Homo sapiens: one gene and its partners. The protein of the gene in region 3 purifies or fractionates together with the protein of the main gene of each other region. This does not show direct contact. Each region holds a gene or a part of one and is shown on either strand. Other genes may lie near its edges.

Region 1 (3,500 bases), on a different chromosome or scaffold from region 3:
GATGTGGGCAAGGACAGGTCCAAAAGGCCAATGAGTTAAAGAAAAAAGGAACGTGGGAACAGAAGTCATATCTATTTGTCTGTATGTAGTAGCAGGATGGCTACTAAAGATCATCTACTCACTCGAGGAATATTTATTGGGCACCTACCACGTGCATTTATTTCTAGGCGCTAGAGATGCAATCGTGATTAAAAACAGATTCAGCTGCTGCTACTCTTGAGCTCGTCTGGGAAGGGAGGGAGACAAACCAATCAGTCACAGAGAAATGTATAATTAGAACCGAGGGAAGTGCTCTGAAGGAAATAAGCCTGATTTAGATGATGCCTACACTGAGAACTGAATGATGAGTAGGTATTCACTAGACAAAGAAAAAAAGGAAAGCGTGTTCTAACAGATGCATGCAAAAGTCCTTCAGCAGAAGGCAACACGAGGCAAGAAGCAGCACAGTTGGATAGGATGCTGGGGAGGCCAGTGGGAGCCAGGCCATGCAGACTTGCCCTTTATCATAACAGAACTAGGGCTGGGCACAGTGGCTCACACCTGCAATCTCAGCACTTTGGGAGGCCAAAGCAGGAGGATCGCTTGAGCCCAGGAGTTCAAGACCACCGTGAGCAACATAAGACGACCCTGTCTTACCCTGTACAAAAAAAATTAAAAATTAGCCAGGTATGGTGGTGTATACCTGTAGTCCCAGCTACAGGGGAGACTGAGGCGGGAGGATCACTTGAGCCCAGGTGGTCAAGGCTGCAGTGAGCCTTGATTGTGCCACCACACTCCAGGCTCAGTGACAGAGCAAGACCCTGTCTCAAAAAAGAGAGAGGAATGGAAGCCAGGAAATAGTTTTTCCAGATACACATTTTGAAAAACTACTCCAGAAGCTACTAGGAGTACACCCTAAAGCGGAGGCCAGATTGGAAAGAAGAAAATCAGGGCTGATGCAGAGAAATAAGGTAGAAAACCATGAGCTAGGCTAGGTAAGAGGCAATGGTAACCTGAGTTGGAGTGGTAACAGAGGATGAGAAGTCTAAGAATGCAGCCCTTGGGCCAAGCACTGTGGCTCACACCTGTAATAACAGGGCTTTGGGAGGCTAAAGCAGGAGGATCACTTGAAGCCAGGAGTTTGAGACTAGCTGGGTCAACATAGTGAGACCGTCTCTACAAAAAATTAAAAATATCAGCCATGCATGGTGACACACACCTGTAGTCCCAGCTACTTGGGGGGCTCAGGTGGGAGGATCCCTTGAGCCCAGGAGTTCAAGGCTACAGTGAGCTATGATAACACCACTGCACTCCAGCCTGGGTGACAGGGCAAGACCTGTCTCTAAAATAAATCAATAAATGAGAATGCAGCCCTTAGATCTGCCATGGCAAACAAATAGGACATGTCCTACTATTTTCCTCCAGGCCTAAAACTGTGAAGGACATCACTAGTCAATTATGGCACCCTAGACATGGCCTCAGAACCCTCAACATTGTTCACTACGTAGCAGTTACCAATAGATGAGATGAAATCCAGTGAGATCTACTTGCTGCCTAGCCTGAGACCTTCTGTGAGCCAGAGTTAGGAGGGGTCACCCAACTGCACTCATGCATCTCCTACCAATCTCAGAATCAGGCAAAAAAGGAGTGGCTCACACGTTTCCTCCAGGAAGCCTTCCCAGCCAATTTTATCCTCTCCTGTCAACCCAGAACCACCTTAGCACTGAGCTCATAATTTTCATGTGTTCCCAGACAGATTTCTCTCAATATTATTATTTTTTCTTTCTTTCTTTTTGAGACAGAGGAGTTTCGCTCTTGTTGCCCAGGCTGGAGTGCAATGGTGCGATCTCGGCTCACTGCAACCTCCGCCTCCTGGGTTCAAGCGATTCTCCTGCCTCAGCCTCCTGAGTAGCTGGGATTACAGGTATGTGCCACCACGCCTGGCTAATTCTGTATTTTTTTAGTGGAGATGCAGTTTCTCCATGTTGGTCAGGCTGGTCTCGACCTCCTATCCTCAGGTGATCCACCCGCCTCGGCCTCCCAAAGTGCTGGGATTACAGGCGTGAGCCACCGTGCCTGGCCAATATTACTTTTTTTATGAAAATGTGTCTTCTTACCTCTCCTGTTAAACCACAAACTTCTGAGGGCCATGTCTCCTCCTCTGGAATTTTCCAACAAAGCCTAAAATAAGCCTATGTAAGCTGTCGGAGCTCAGTTACTGCTGTAACTGCTAATATAAAACCAAGGAATAGGCCGGGTGTTGTGGCTCACACCGGTAATCCCAATACTATGGGGGACCAAGGCCTAGGATCACTTGAGCCTAGAAGCTCAAGACCAGCCTGAGCAATATAGTAAGACCCTGTCTCCACAAATATATATATATATATATATATTAGCCAGGCATGGTGGCGTGCACCTGTGGTCCCAGCTACTCGGAAGGCTGAGGCAGGAGCTATGTGATCAGATGGAAAGGAAGACAGAGTTACATAAAGAGTGTAAAGTGGGGAGGCAGAGGTGGGAGGATCACTTGAGACCAGGAGTTCGAGGCTGCAGTGAGCTATGATTGTACCACCATACTCCAGCCTGGGCAACAGAGTGAGACCCTATCTGAAAAAAAAAAAAAATACACCAGCAATCTCAGAAGCTAGGAAGACCCGCAGTAGTTTTGGTCCACCTTCCTTCCCATGCCAAAATTTTCCTCTCTGTGCTTCCAGTGACAGGCGGCATAGTGGTCAAAGTACCAGCTTTGGAGACAGAAGACCTGGATTCAAATCCCAGCTCTCTCACTTAGCAGCTGTATGACCTTAGGCAAGGTGCTTCACCTCTCTCAGCCTCAATAACTGCATGTGTATAATTAAAACAATCTTAACAAAAATCAAAAAGCCTGAAAGTAAAATGAAACAACACTTATAAAGTGCCTAGCACAGTCCCTGTATACAGAAAAGTTACACAAATTTAGCTAGTATTACAGATTCTATTTTCAATTCCATAGTTAGATAATTCTTAACTATTAGAAGGTCTAATAGTAAGCCAATAATCAGGTTCTAAAAAAATGTTCCCTGGTATCTCAAGTCTGCCTTCTGCTCATCTGGGGACACCCTAGGATTCTCTAGCTAAGGTAGGCTAAGTATTCCCAGTTCTCTTCCATTCAGTACATATCGTTTCCCAGTCCTTCAATATTGTGGCTACCTTGCCCTGTACTTTGTCAGCATAGCTAGAGTTTTGCACATCTGCACACTAACAGAGAATATACACTCACAGACATAATGAGGGTTCTCTGTATATTTATTTCTTCCACCCTGCTCCAACAATTACAAAGAAGGTTGACCACAGAAAAGATTGACTGGAGAAGGTAAAGGGGAGAAGGTGGAAGATGTCAGAGTTGATTACGCAGTGGTAATGAGCAAAAGCTTTGGAACATTCTTGGCTTTCAATCCCAGCTCTGCCTCTTACTAGCTGGACAGCCTCAGTTTTCTCATCTATAAAATGAGAGTACTAACAATATCCATCACAATGTGTTG
Region 2 (4,159 bases), on a different chromosome or scaffold from region 3:
GCCTTTTAACATGAGAGAAGAAAAAAGGGCGATTTCAAGAGAGAAAAATTTAAGGTGTATATAAGTGTCCAGGATAATGAGCGTAAGCAACTTAAAGAGTCAAGGATGAACAGGCTGCAAAGGAAAACCATGACTGTTAAATCCTTAAAATTCCATCAAAACTAAAGAGAGCTGAACTCTCTTTATACTTAAAAATTTATTTTTAGTTTATTTACTGAATGCTTCCAGAGACCTGGAAGAAATCTGCAGTAGGCTTGGTGGGAGATTAAATCCTACTCAATGGAAATGAACTTTAAAATTCAGCAGAACTGAGCAACAAGCTACATGATGGTACAGGATGACCATCTATCTAATCCTCCTCGGCACATTAACTGATCTCTCCTTAAAAACAATACACAGACATTCACCAAGGTTTTATAGAGGAATGCATCCAGGTATATAAATAGGCCATCATACTGCATATGCTTTGAAGTTCACACCACTGCTTACATAGATTGTGAATGCCTTCTTAGAAAAAATTCTTAGGGCTGGGCATGGTGGCTCACGCCTCTAATCCTAGCATTTTGGGAGGCTGAAGTGGGAGGATCACTTGAGCCCAGGAAGTCAAGACCAGCCTGGGCAACATAAGGAGACCCCTCTCTACAAAAAATAGAAAACTTAGCCAGCCGTGGTGATTAGAATCTGTAGTCCTAGCTCCTCAGGAGCCTAAGGTGGAAGGACGGCTTGTGCCGGGGAGGTCGAGGCTGCAGTGAGCTGTGATCCCGCCACTGCACTCCAGCCTAGGTGACAGAGGGAGACCTCATTTCAAAAGTTTTTAAAAAGCAAAAGTTCTTAGAATTTACACTGGAGAAAGCACTCATATAAATTTAGGAAATGACAGAGAATGCAACAATATTATCCTATAATTTCCCACTAGGAAAACCTTCTAAGGATGATGTTTACTTTCCTCTCAAGCAGCAAGAGCAGAGAGCAATGCCCAGGTGTAAGGAAACTATAGTTGCTCACTGGGACCCTCAGAGCTCACTCTTTTCCCAAGTATTCAGGCTGGGCAAACATTTAGAATTGGAATCCCGATAATTAAGATGTGTATGAGTCAATCTAAAGGGGAGGTACAGTCTCTATTTGAAAACAAAATGCTTCTTGGCACAATTCTAAAAGTACAATTCAGGCATTAAATGCCTCCACCATTTTAAATGCTGAGTATTATTTATTCTGACCAACAAAGACCACAGAAAAATTAAAAGCAGAGAAAAAGATTAGAAATTTAACACTCCTAAACCTGGGGCATTGGTTACGTTGTTTACTTTGTGTCACTTATACAAAATTAAGTTTTACTTTTATTTTTTTTAAAGAAAAAAGCCTACAGCACTTAGTATTCCCAGGCAGTGACAAGTTTTACTTTTAATCACAACTAAAGAGGTATCTACACAAATTGTAGCAAAAATCATTAGCATTATAAATTTATGTAGATAAAAGTATCATGTGCAATTACTGACTTATATTTTGAAATTGTTATTAAAAAAAAACCTATAGTTAAGGTAGAAAAATGCCACTATACTGACAAGTAGCCCGAAATTTGGTGCCCTCTTCTTGTCAATATGTGACCAATGAAAAGCAAGTTAAGCAACCTTAACCTGGGATTACCAGGTTATTGTAAAATATCCAAGAAATATTTTTAAAAATGAAAAGGCTTTTTTTTCTTTCCGAAGTTATTTCTCAGGGAATTAGAAAAGAAAATAAATGAAAAACACTGTTCTCAAGGCTAGTTGTTGATGGCAAACAATTGGTAATTGTTTTGAGACACCCACTTTTTAACTACAAAGATACTTGACCTTAACTTAGAATACAAAATGAAACCAATCTCCACTATTCCTAAATTTGACAATTTGAACCTATAGAATGGTATAAAAAAGCCCCCAACTCGTTACTCAACAAAGATTTTTGAACAAACGACTTTGGCAAAGCACCCTGGCCCAAGGCAGACAGACCAAAAACTTTAAAAATCCTACAAAATATTCTAACTTGAGTTCAGGCTCCATACAGTACCTCACTGACCGACATGGTTTTGCTTCCTTAGTTCTCAAGGGCCAGGTCTGCTGGGTTCTGGGTGGTAAGGACCCCCCTGGGGAGACAAGACCTCGCGCCTCTGCCCGTCGTTCTGGGCCAAGCTCGGCCCAGAATGACGGGCAAAGGCCGGGCCACGGGCGACGCGAGGGCCTCCCTCACTCACCGTGAAGCGCTGGTCGCCAATGCTGCCCACGGAGAAGCAGTGGTCGCCAGGGTTCACAGCCCCGGTCAGCACCTGGTGCAGGTTCATGTCGGCGCCCTAGTCCTGCAACGGACACCGCATCCAGCTCATGCCACGGGTCAGCGGCTGCTTCCCTCCCTCCTTCCCTCAGGGGCGGCGGCCGCTCTTCGGTGGCGACGGCAGAAGCAGCGACAGGCGCCTGGAGCCGGAGCCGCTCAGCTGGGGCCCGCGACTCATCCCGAGCCCCGGAGGGCGAGGCCCGGAGGGGGCGGGTCGGCGAGAGGGCGGAGCGCCGCGCTCCTTCGCGCACCTGTCACTCCCCGCGCTAGCCCAGGTGAAGCTCAGGGTCCCCTCACCGGCCACGACCCGGGGCCGACTCACCGGCCAGGAAGGCCGCGCTGTCCACACACTTCCTCTGGACCTCGGGCAGCCGCTCCTGACCCAGCCCGAGTGGCGCAAGCAGTACGCGCTCGCACTCCCCGCCTGACCTGTCCCTTCCCGGCTCCGGTGCCCGCCACCCCCACAGTCCTCCGCCACTCACTACGCGCCTCTGGATCCCTGCGGCCGAAATATCGCGAGACTTCGCTCGGGGCAGCTGCTACTGTGGTAAAGAATTCACTTTTTTACCACAGCGTGCGTATCAGCAAGTGAACATAAAAACGCCTCTTCTAGTCAGAAACTGGCCAATCCCGACCCCCGGTCCACCTAGGGCTCCGCCCACCACCGAGAATAAGCCAATCTCTTTGAGGCTTCTACAGGAGAACGCCGTGCGTTTGAGCTTGAACCTGATAAGCCTGGCAGAAGCCTGATGAACCCAGAATGAGTGAGATGTGGTAAGTTGTGCTTTAGGTTAGGGCGTCATCTAACTGTTGGGCCAGAAAATTTAAAGGGGAGAAGTGCATCCTAAAGGGAGTTGCAGTTTCCTCGGTTCTGGTAGGACTACAAGTCCCAATATGCACCGCTCCCCCGGGCGACCTGAGTGTCTCTTGAGTAAATGTGACCCTTGAAACGTCTACGTTAGCAGCTTAATGGTTTCTCCAGCCTTGCGCGTGTTTCCAAGTCCCTAAACGGGATGGTTTTTGAAAGGCTCGAACACTTGACAAGTAGGAAAGTGGTATTTTCTTAGCCTAAGTTATCTTAACACGTGATTTGAAATAGTGCTGGTAATAACAACACACCAGCCCTGCATTGAGCGTTTGTTTTGGAAAAGAACCTAGGAATTCCAGAATGATCAGAGTCACAGCTACAAACTGAGATTCAACTCTCATTGTATTTTGACACAAGTTTTGTATTATAATTGACAAACATCTGTTTATATGTCTCCCCCTGTATACCGTAAGCCTCTTTGGAATACAGAGGAACAGGACACAAGTCTGTCCTTAATGTCTAGCACCGCACCAGTCCCACCCATTCAGGGTGTTCTGTAAATGTTGCATGAATGTGTATAGAAACTCTCCAAATAGGCCAGGCACGGTGACTCACGCCTATTATTCCAGAACTTTGGGAGGCCGAGGAGGGTGAATCACGAGGTCAGGAGTTCGAGACCAGCCTGGCCAACATAGTGAAACCCCCTTCTCTACTAAAAATACAAAAATTAGCCGGGCGTGGTGGCTCCCACCTGTAATCCCAGCTACTCGGGAGGTTGAGGCAGGAGAATCACTTGAACCCGGGAGGCAGAGGTTGTAGTGAGCCAAGACCCCCGTTGCACTCCAGCCTGGGTGACAGAGTGAGATCCCGTCTCAAAACAAACAACCCTCAAAACTCTCCAATAGGCCAGGCACGATGGCTCACGCCTGTAATCCCAGCACTTTGGTAAGTCGAGGTGGGGGCGGGGGGATCACCTGAGGTTGGGAGTTCGAGACCAGCCTGGCTAACATTGTGAAACCCAGTTTCTACTAAAAATTAAAAAAT
Region 3 (3,500 bases):
GAGCTGGCAGCATTGATGAAATGGGTAACCATAAATGAAGACTTTTTTTTTTTTGAGACAGAGTCTCACTCTGTTGCCCAGGCTGGAGTGCAGTGGTGCAATCTCAGCTCACAGCAACCTCTGCCTCCCAGGCTCAAGTGATTCTCCTGCCTCAGCCTCCCGAGTAGCTGGGATTATAGGCATGCACCACCACGCCCGGCTAATTTTTGTATCTTTAGAAGAGATGGGGTTTTACCATGTTGGGCAGGCTGGTCTCGAACTCCTGACCTCAAATGATCCACCTGCCTCGGCCTCCCAAAGTGCTGGGATTACAGGCATGAGCCACCATGCCTGGCCAAAAACTTCTACCTGCTTGGAAAGTTGACTGGTCACACAGCCTAGCAAATGAGGTTGGGATGTGGGATGTGCCTGGTTCCAATCCCAGCCCTTTACTGTTCCCATAGGAGGTGGGGACAGGCCTCACCCAGGCGTCCAGCATCCTGCAGCTGAATCTTGAGCATTTCCATGGGACAGGTCACCACGACCTGGCACATCCCAGCCCCACACCCGGCAAGCATCTCCATCTTCAGGTTCCGCTGCATCCTATGGGAACAGGCGTCAGGCTCCTTCAGCCGCAGGCCACAGGCCTGCCCTGGTGCAGCTGCCCTCTTGTGAGAGGGGGACTTTCCCTGGATGGCACCCGTGGCTGCCACTCACCCAGCTGGTCAAGTCATCAGCTAGCCCTTAGGTGTGGTCTCTGTACGGACAGGGGACTAAGTTTAAAACAAAGCCTGCTAGGGAGGTAGCACCGCATGGAAGCTGAAAACAGTGACAGAGAAAACTACCCAGACCAGGCGTTGTCCTTGATCCCTTCAGGAACATCACTGGGCAATGTGAGGCACAGAGAGAGCTAGAAAGTGTTTGGGGGCTGATTTGTTTTTCCTGAGACGAGGTCTCGCTCTGTGACCCACGCCGAAGTGCAGTGGAGCCAACATGGCTCACTGCAACCTCGACCGCCTGGGCCCAAGCGATCCTCCTTCCTCAACCTCCTAAAGTGCTGGGATTACAGGCATGAGCCACTGCAGCCAGCTTGGTGGCTGATTTTTAAAAATTTATTGGCTAGTTGATGGATTTGTCTGTATATGCTATATGTTCTCTATATTATCTGTCACACTTCCAAAGTATACCAGCTCATTCTCTCCCTTCACTCTCCAGCAGCCCAAACACACACCAGCCCTCAGCCATGTGTGCACATATTTATATGCATGCAGGCAGGTATACTGAGGCACATTTGAAATCTTCTTCCTGCCATCTCTCCCAAAAAACACACAGTGAAGGATCCAACCCCACCCCACCTGGCCATACCCATCTTCCATGAGCAGCCGCCGGAAAAAGTCGTTGGCCGCCAGCTTGATGGCCTTCTCTGGAGTGACCAGAGTGAGGTTCACTGCAGCCCCTGGAAGTGAAGGACAAGATGGGGAGTCAAGGCCATCCCAGAAATAACAGTGCCCCAGGTCTGCCCTTCAGCCCTAGCCAGGCCAGTCCCTGAGTGAAGGGCATTTTTGGGGCCAGGTGGGGCTCCTGAGCCTAATTCACTGAAATAACTTTCCATTCCCACTCCCTACCACATTCTCCTTTTTTTTTAGATGGAGTCTCGCTCTGTCGCCCAGGCTGGAGTGCAGTGGCGCGATCTCGGCGCACTGAAAGCTCCGCCTCCCGGGTTCGCGCCATTCTCCTGCCTCGGCCTCCCTAGTAGCTGGGACTACAGGCGCCCGCCACCACGCCCGGCTAAATTTTTTTTGTATTTTTTAGTAGAGACGGGGTTTCACCGTGTTAGCCAGGATGGTCTCGATCTCCTGACCTCGTGATCCGCCCGCCTCGGCCTCCCAAAGTGCTGGGATTACAGGCGTGAGCCACCGCGCCCGGCCCCACATTCTCCCCTTTTTACGTATTTTTTTCTTACGGACTCCTCAGTTTGGTTATCAGGAAGCCATTTTATTTTTGTTGCTGCTGGTGGGGTCGCTGATGATAAAACAGCAGTTCCAGTGACAGGCGCCAGGCGCAGGGACTGGGGTTCCGCTCCTCTGTGCCGCACAAGCCAGTCCCATTGGCTGCTAGCTCGGGGCTGTCTAGGGTTTGTGTTTTGCTTCTCGGCGGCACAAGCATACGAGCTCCGGCTCAACTCCAGCTTGGGATCCATTGTCCAAGGTACCTCCTGGCTGGGGACCCCGCAGGGACCGCAGCAACGCTGGACCGAGCTGGGGAGGAGCCACCCAGAACTCCTTGCCAGGAGCTCAGGCCCCGTCCCTCAGTCCCTTTCAGCCTCTCTCTCTTCGCTTCTAGCCAGGCAGAGAGAGGCAGGCAGGTAGGGAGGGCTCGCCTGCTCTTACTGAGGCGGTGGCGGGGGGTGTGCTCTGTGGGTCTCCGGAAGCCTTACCAGGACCCAGAGCTGCCTCTGTCTCCACCCAAGAGCACAGAGGCTCATCAGGAAGGACCCCCTGGCAGCCCTGGCCCCATCCCCGCAGCAACGGAAGGAACACCAGTTCCCCATGTCCCATACGCTCACACCTGCTGCCCAGCCTCCCAGGGGACCTGAGAAGCCCACCTCGGTACATGCCGAAGAAGCCCTCCGCCCGAGCCGTCTTCATCAGGCAGTCGATCCTGGAAGCAGAGGCCAGAGTAGGAGTAAGTGTGCAGCGGGCCTCCCAGCCGCCTCCATGCCCTGCTCCCGCGGGCACATCCCAGCTGATCAGATCCCCAGCCCCCAGGCTCACGCGCGCTGCCTGGAGACTGGAGGGAAGGGGGCCCCATCCCTCCCCCGGGCGCCTCTGCCCTCCACGCTCGCCTGCCAGCACCTACATTCCTTTGTACATGGCTTTCCCATGCTGGTTCTGCAGGCGAGTCTTGGCCAAGTCGATGGGGAACACGCAGGTCACCCCCACGAGCCCTGCTACACCTCCATTGATGAGTTTGGCTGTGATGCTAGGACAGGGGGAGGACAGGGGGAGGAGAGAGGCAGAGGGAGGGGCAGGTTAGGGAGCGGATGCAGCCAGGAATGGGCAGGGGCACAGACAGTGGGGAACCCCAGCCCCACAGGTGTCCAGAGACCCTCTTCAGCCTCCCTGGCCCAGGTCTGGTCCAGACAGGACAGCCGCACTCACCCGGGTGAGGCATCTTGCTGCAACCCGGGAAGTCCCTGGAGCTGGGACCTGCAGGGGCTTCTGGGAGGAGCCCAGCTCTGCCCCCATGGGCCGCCACCAGGGCACCGCTCTGCCCCAAGCTTCCCCGGCCCGTCCTCTGGCTCCTCCGCAGGCCTGGAGCCACGTGTGCAGTTCTCACACAAACGGACTGAAGGTCAGGCAGAACTGAGTTTGCATCCTGACTGTGACCTCTCCTCTCTGGGCCTGCATTCCCGTCGAACTCACTCCAGGGTTGCTGAGGACTATGGAAACCGTGCCTGGGGGGGAATGCCAGCTATTGTTCATAATAAGAGAGCAGGCACTTCCCACAGTGAAGGCTTC
Region 4 (3,500 bases), on a different chromosome or scaffold from region 3:
TTCTCAACTCATTCTATGAGGCATTACTCTGACATCAAAACTAGATAAAATGTCACAACAAAAACTATAGACCAATATCCCTTATGAATACAGATGCAAAATTCCTCAATAAAATATCAGCAAACCAAATCCAGCAAAATATAAAATTATATACTATGACCAAATAAGATTTATCCTAGGAATGTAAGCATGGTTTAACATCTGAAAAATCATATAATGTGATATGTCGCAATAGAATACTTAAGTTTAAAAAAAAGCCACATGATTATCTAAACAGACAGAAGAAAAACATTTGACACACTCCAACACCCTTTCATGAGTTAAAAACACTCAAAAAACTAGGAATAGAAGAAAACTTTCTCAATCTGATAAAGAGAATCTATGAAAAACTCACAGCTAATATCATACTTAATGGTGAAAGACTGAACGCTTTACCCCTAAGATCAGGAACAAGGAAAGGGTGTCTGTTCTCACCTCTTCTATTTGACATTGTACCAAAAGTTTTAGTCAGAGTAATTATGAAAGAAAAAGAAATAAAAGGTATCCAGATTGGAGTAGAAGGAATACTATTTCTATTTGTAAGATGACATGATCTTATATAGAGAAAATCCTAAGAAATCCACTAAGAAACTATTAGAACTAATAAATGAATTCAGCAAGATTGCAGGTACACGATCAATACACAAAAATACTTCTATACACTAGCAATGAACAATCCAAATATGAAATAAAGAAAATTCCATCTACAATAGCATCAAAAATGAAATAATTAGGAAAAATTTAATAAAAAGTGTAGGCACACTAAAAATTACAAAACTTGGAAAGAAACTAAAGATCTAAATAAGGAAAACCAGCCCATGTTCATTGGCCATAAGACAATATTGTTAAAATGGCAATACTTCCCTAGGCAACAGACTGAGTCCTTGTCACAGAAAGGAAAGAAGGAAAGGAAAGGGGAGACGGGAAAGAGGAGAGGAGAAAGAGGAGAGGGGAAAGAGGAGAGGGGAGAGGAGGGGAGAGGGGATAAAAGGAAAGAGGAGAGGGGAGGAGGAGGAGGAGGGGAGGAGAAGGAAGAAGAGGGAGGAAAGGGGAGAGGAGGAGAAAAAGGAGGAGGAAAAAAGGAAAGGAAAGATTTGTAGATGCCTATCAAAATCCCAACTGGTTGGTTTTTTTGGTTTTTTTTTTTTTGTCTTTTTTTGCAGACACGGATATGATGATCCTAAATTTCATACGGGAATGCAAGAGACCCAGAAGAGACAAAAATCATCTTAAAAACAACAAAGTCAGAGGACTTACTCGTCCTTATTTCAAAAGTACAGTAATCTATCTTATCCATGGGGGATACATACCGAGTCCCCCAGCGGATGCCTGAAACAATGGATACTACCAAATCCTAAATATACTGTTTTTTTCCTAAACATACCTATGATAAAGCTGACTTTATAAATTATGTACAGTAAAAGATTAACAATAATAATAAAATAGAAAAATTATAACAATATATTGTAATAAGGTATGTGAATGTGGTCGCTCTCTCCCTCAAAGTATCTTAAGGTTTTTGAACCTCAGTTGACCAGGGGTAACTGAAACCAAAGAAGGCAAAATCACTGAGAAGGCGGACTACTATATACAAAACTATAGTAACCAAGACAGTGTGGTTCTGGCATAAGGACAGATACAGACAGGAAGGGAACAGAACTGAGAGTCCAGAAATCCATACATCTATGGTCAATTGATTTTTGACAAGGGGAGAAGTAAATGGAAAGTGACTCATGGGTGTAAGGTTTCGTTTGTGGGTGATGAAAATGTTCTAAAATTAGATCATGGTGATGGTCACACAACCCGGAATATACTAAAAGCCAATTAATTATACACTTAAAATGGGTGGATTTTATGACATGTGAATTTCATCTCAATAAAGCTGTTCAAAAAAAAGGATATGGGAATGTTACGAACAACTTCACGCCAATATATCTGATAATTTAGATGAAATGAAATACCCCTTTAGGCCAGGCGCAGTGGCTCACGCCTGTAATCCCAGCACTTTGGAAGGCTGGGGCGGACGCATCATGAGGTCAGGAGATCGAGACCATCCTGGCTAATACAGTGAAACCCCGTCTCTACTAAAAATACAAAAAATCAGCCAGGCGTGGTGGTGGGTGCCTGTAATCCCAGCTACTCGGGAGGCTGAGGCAGAAGAATCGCTTGAACATGGGAGGCAGAGGTTGCAGTGAGCCGAGATCATGCCACTGCACTCCAGCGTGGGCAACGGAGCGAGACTCCATCTCAAAAAAAAAAAAAAAAGAAAGGAATGCCCTTTTATATGCCTTATATTCTTCCTGTTAGATTTATTTCTATATTTTTTCTTTTTGTTGCTCTTACACAGTGTATTTTTTTCATTATATCTTTTAATAAACATGTATTTCTATATAGGAACACTACTAAGTTCTGCACATTAATTTTGTACCTATCTACCTTCCAGAATTATCTTAATGCTTAATGCTGCTTAGTTTATTCTCTTGGATTACCAGTTATAAAATAATATCATCAGCAAGTAATAATTTACCCCCTCCTTTCCATTTTTATCCTTCTATTTTGCTATATTTCTATTTTCTACTTCTAATTCTGTTGGCTGGTATCTCCAAACACAGTTAAATTATGATAGTCTTGTCCTTGTCTTGTTCCTAACTTTAACAGGAATGCTATTAGAGTTTTTTTCTTTAATCAAGATGCTGTTTGGAGTTGAAATAAATACATTTCAATGGTGTAGGAAATTATCCATTTTTTTCTTAAGAGGGTTCATTTTAAAAGAATCAAGAATAGATGTTGAATGTTAACAGATGTCTCTTCAACATCTATACAGAGGATGGCACAAGTTTCATGTATTTTAGATTTCACATATATATAAAATTATATTAATAGATATCCCAATATTGAACTATCCCTATACTTCTACTAAACTTCAGTTGGTCTATGGTATATTGGTCTTTCAATATGCTGCTAGATTTTGTTTCCTGATCTTCTATGTAAAATTTTTTGCATCAATATTCACAGGTGGAGAACATTAGAGTCTGCAGTTCTCTCTTTCTGTGTGTTTACTGTCAGGTGTCAGTGTCAATATTATACTTGTTTCATAAAAATAACCTGGCCCCTTTCTCTCTCTGTGCTTTGTAACAATTTAAACAATAATGGAAATATATGTTTTTTAAAGGTTTGAGGACATTCCCTATCAATCTGAGCCTGGTGTTTCTGAGGGACTGTATCTCTGAGAACTTTTCCTATTACTTTTCACCCCATGGTCATTAGTCTATTTAGACAATCTCCATGGGAATCAGTTTTAGTAAATTACATTTATATGCCATCCAAATTTTCCATTTCTTTTGCACTTAGTTGAGCAAAAACAACAAAAAACCCTTGTGATTCTTGATTCCGCTGCATCTGGATGCTTGTTCCTGCTCTTTTCCCACTTACATAGGTTAGCTAATGAGCTTCTTTAATCA

What was found. The genes of interacting proteins can lie anywhere in the genome.
Region 1: the proteins of SLC25A18 (region 3) and CEP164 purify together in Homo sapiens (affinity purification with mass spectrometry; one large-scale study listed by BioGRID and IntAct). This does not show direct contact.
Region 2: the proteins of SLC25A18 (region 3) and DMXL1 purify together in Homo sapiens (affinity purification with mass spectrometry; one large-scale study listed by BioGRID and IntAct). This does not show direct contact.
Region 4: the proteins of SLC25A18 (region 3) and ANGEL1 purify together in Homo sapiens (affinity purification with mass spectrometry; one large-scale study listed by BioGRID and IntAct). This does not show direct contact.

Annotation. Positions count from the first base shown.
Region 1 is NC_000011.10:117,330,854-117,334,353, reverse strand, and holds part of CEP164 (centrosomal protein of 164 kDa), read right to left. Parts: intron 1-3,500. UniProt on the Homo sapiens protein: Plays a role in microtubule organization and/or maintenance for the formation of primary cilia (PC), a microtubule-based structure that protrudes from the surface of epithelial cells. Plays a critical role in G2/M checkpoint and nuclear divisions.
Region 2 is NC_000005.10:119,069,728-119,073,886, reverse strand, and holds the start of DMXL1 (dmX-like protein 1), read right to left. Parts: upstream 2,801-4,159; 5' UTR 2,318-2,800; coding exon 2,231-2,317; intron 1-2,230.
Region 3 is NC_000022.11:17,580,498-17,583,997, reverse strand, and holds part of SLC25A18 (mitochondrial glutamate carrier 2), read right to left. Parts: intron 2,962-3,500; coding exon 2,839-2,961; intron 2,665-2,838; exon of another isoform or gene 2,641-2,664; coding exon 2,585-2,640; exon of another isoform or gene 2,450-2,584; intron 1,436-2,449; coding exon 1,345-1,435; intron 583-1,344; coding exon 464-582; intron 1-463. UniProt on the Homo sapiens protein: Responsible for the transport of glutamate from the cytosol into the mitochondrial matrix with the concomitant import of a proton (symport system).
Region 4 is NC_000014.9:76,792,383-76,795,882, forward strand, and holds part of ANGEL1 (protein angel homolog 1), read right to left. Parts: intron 1-3,500.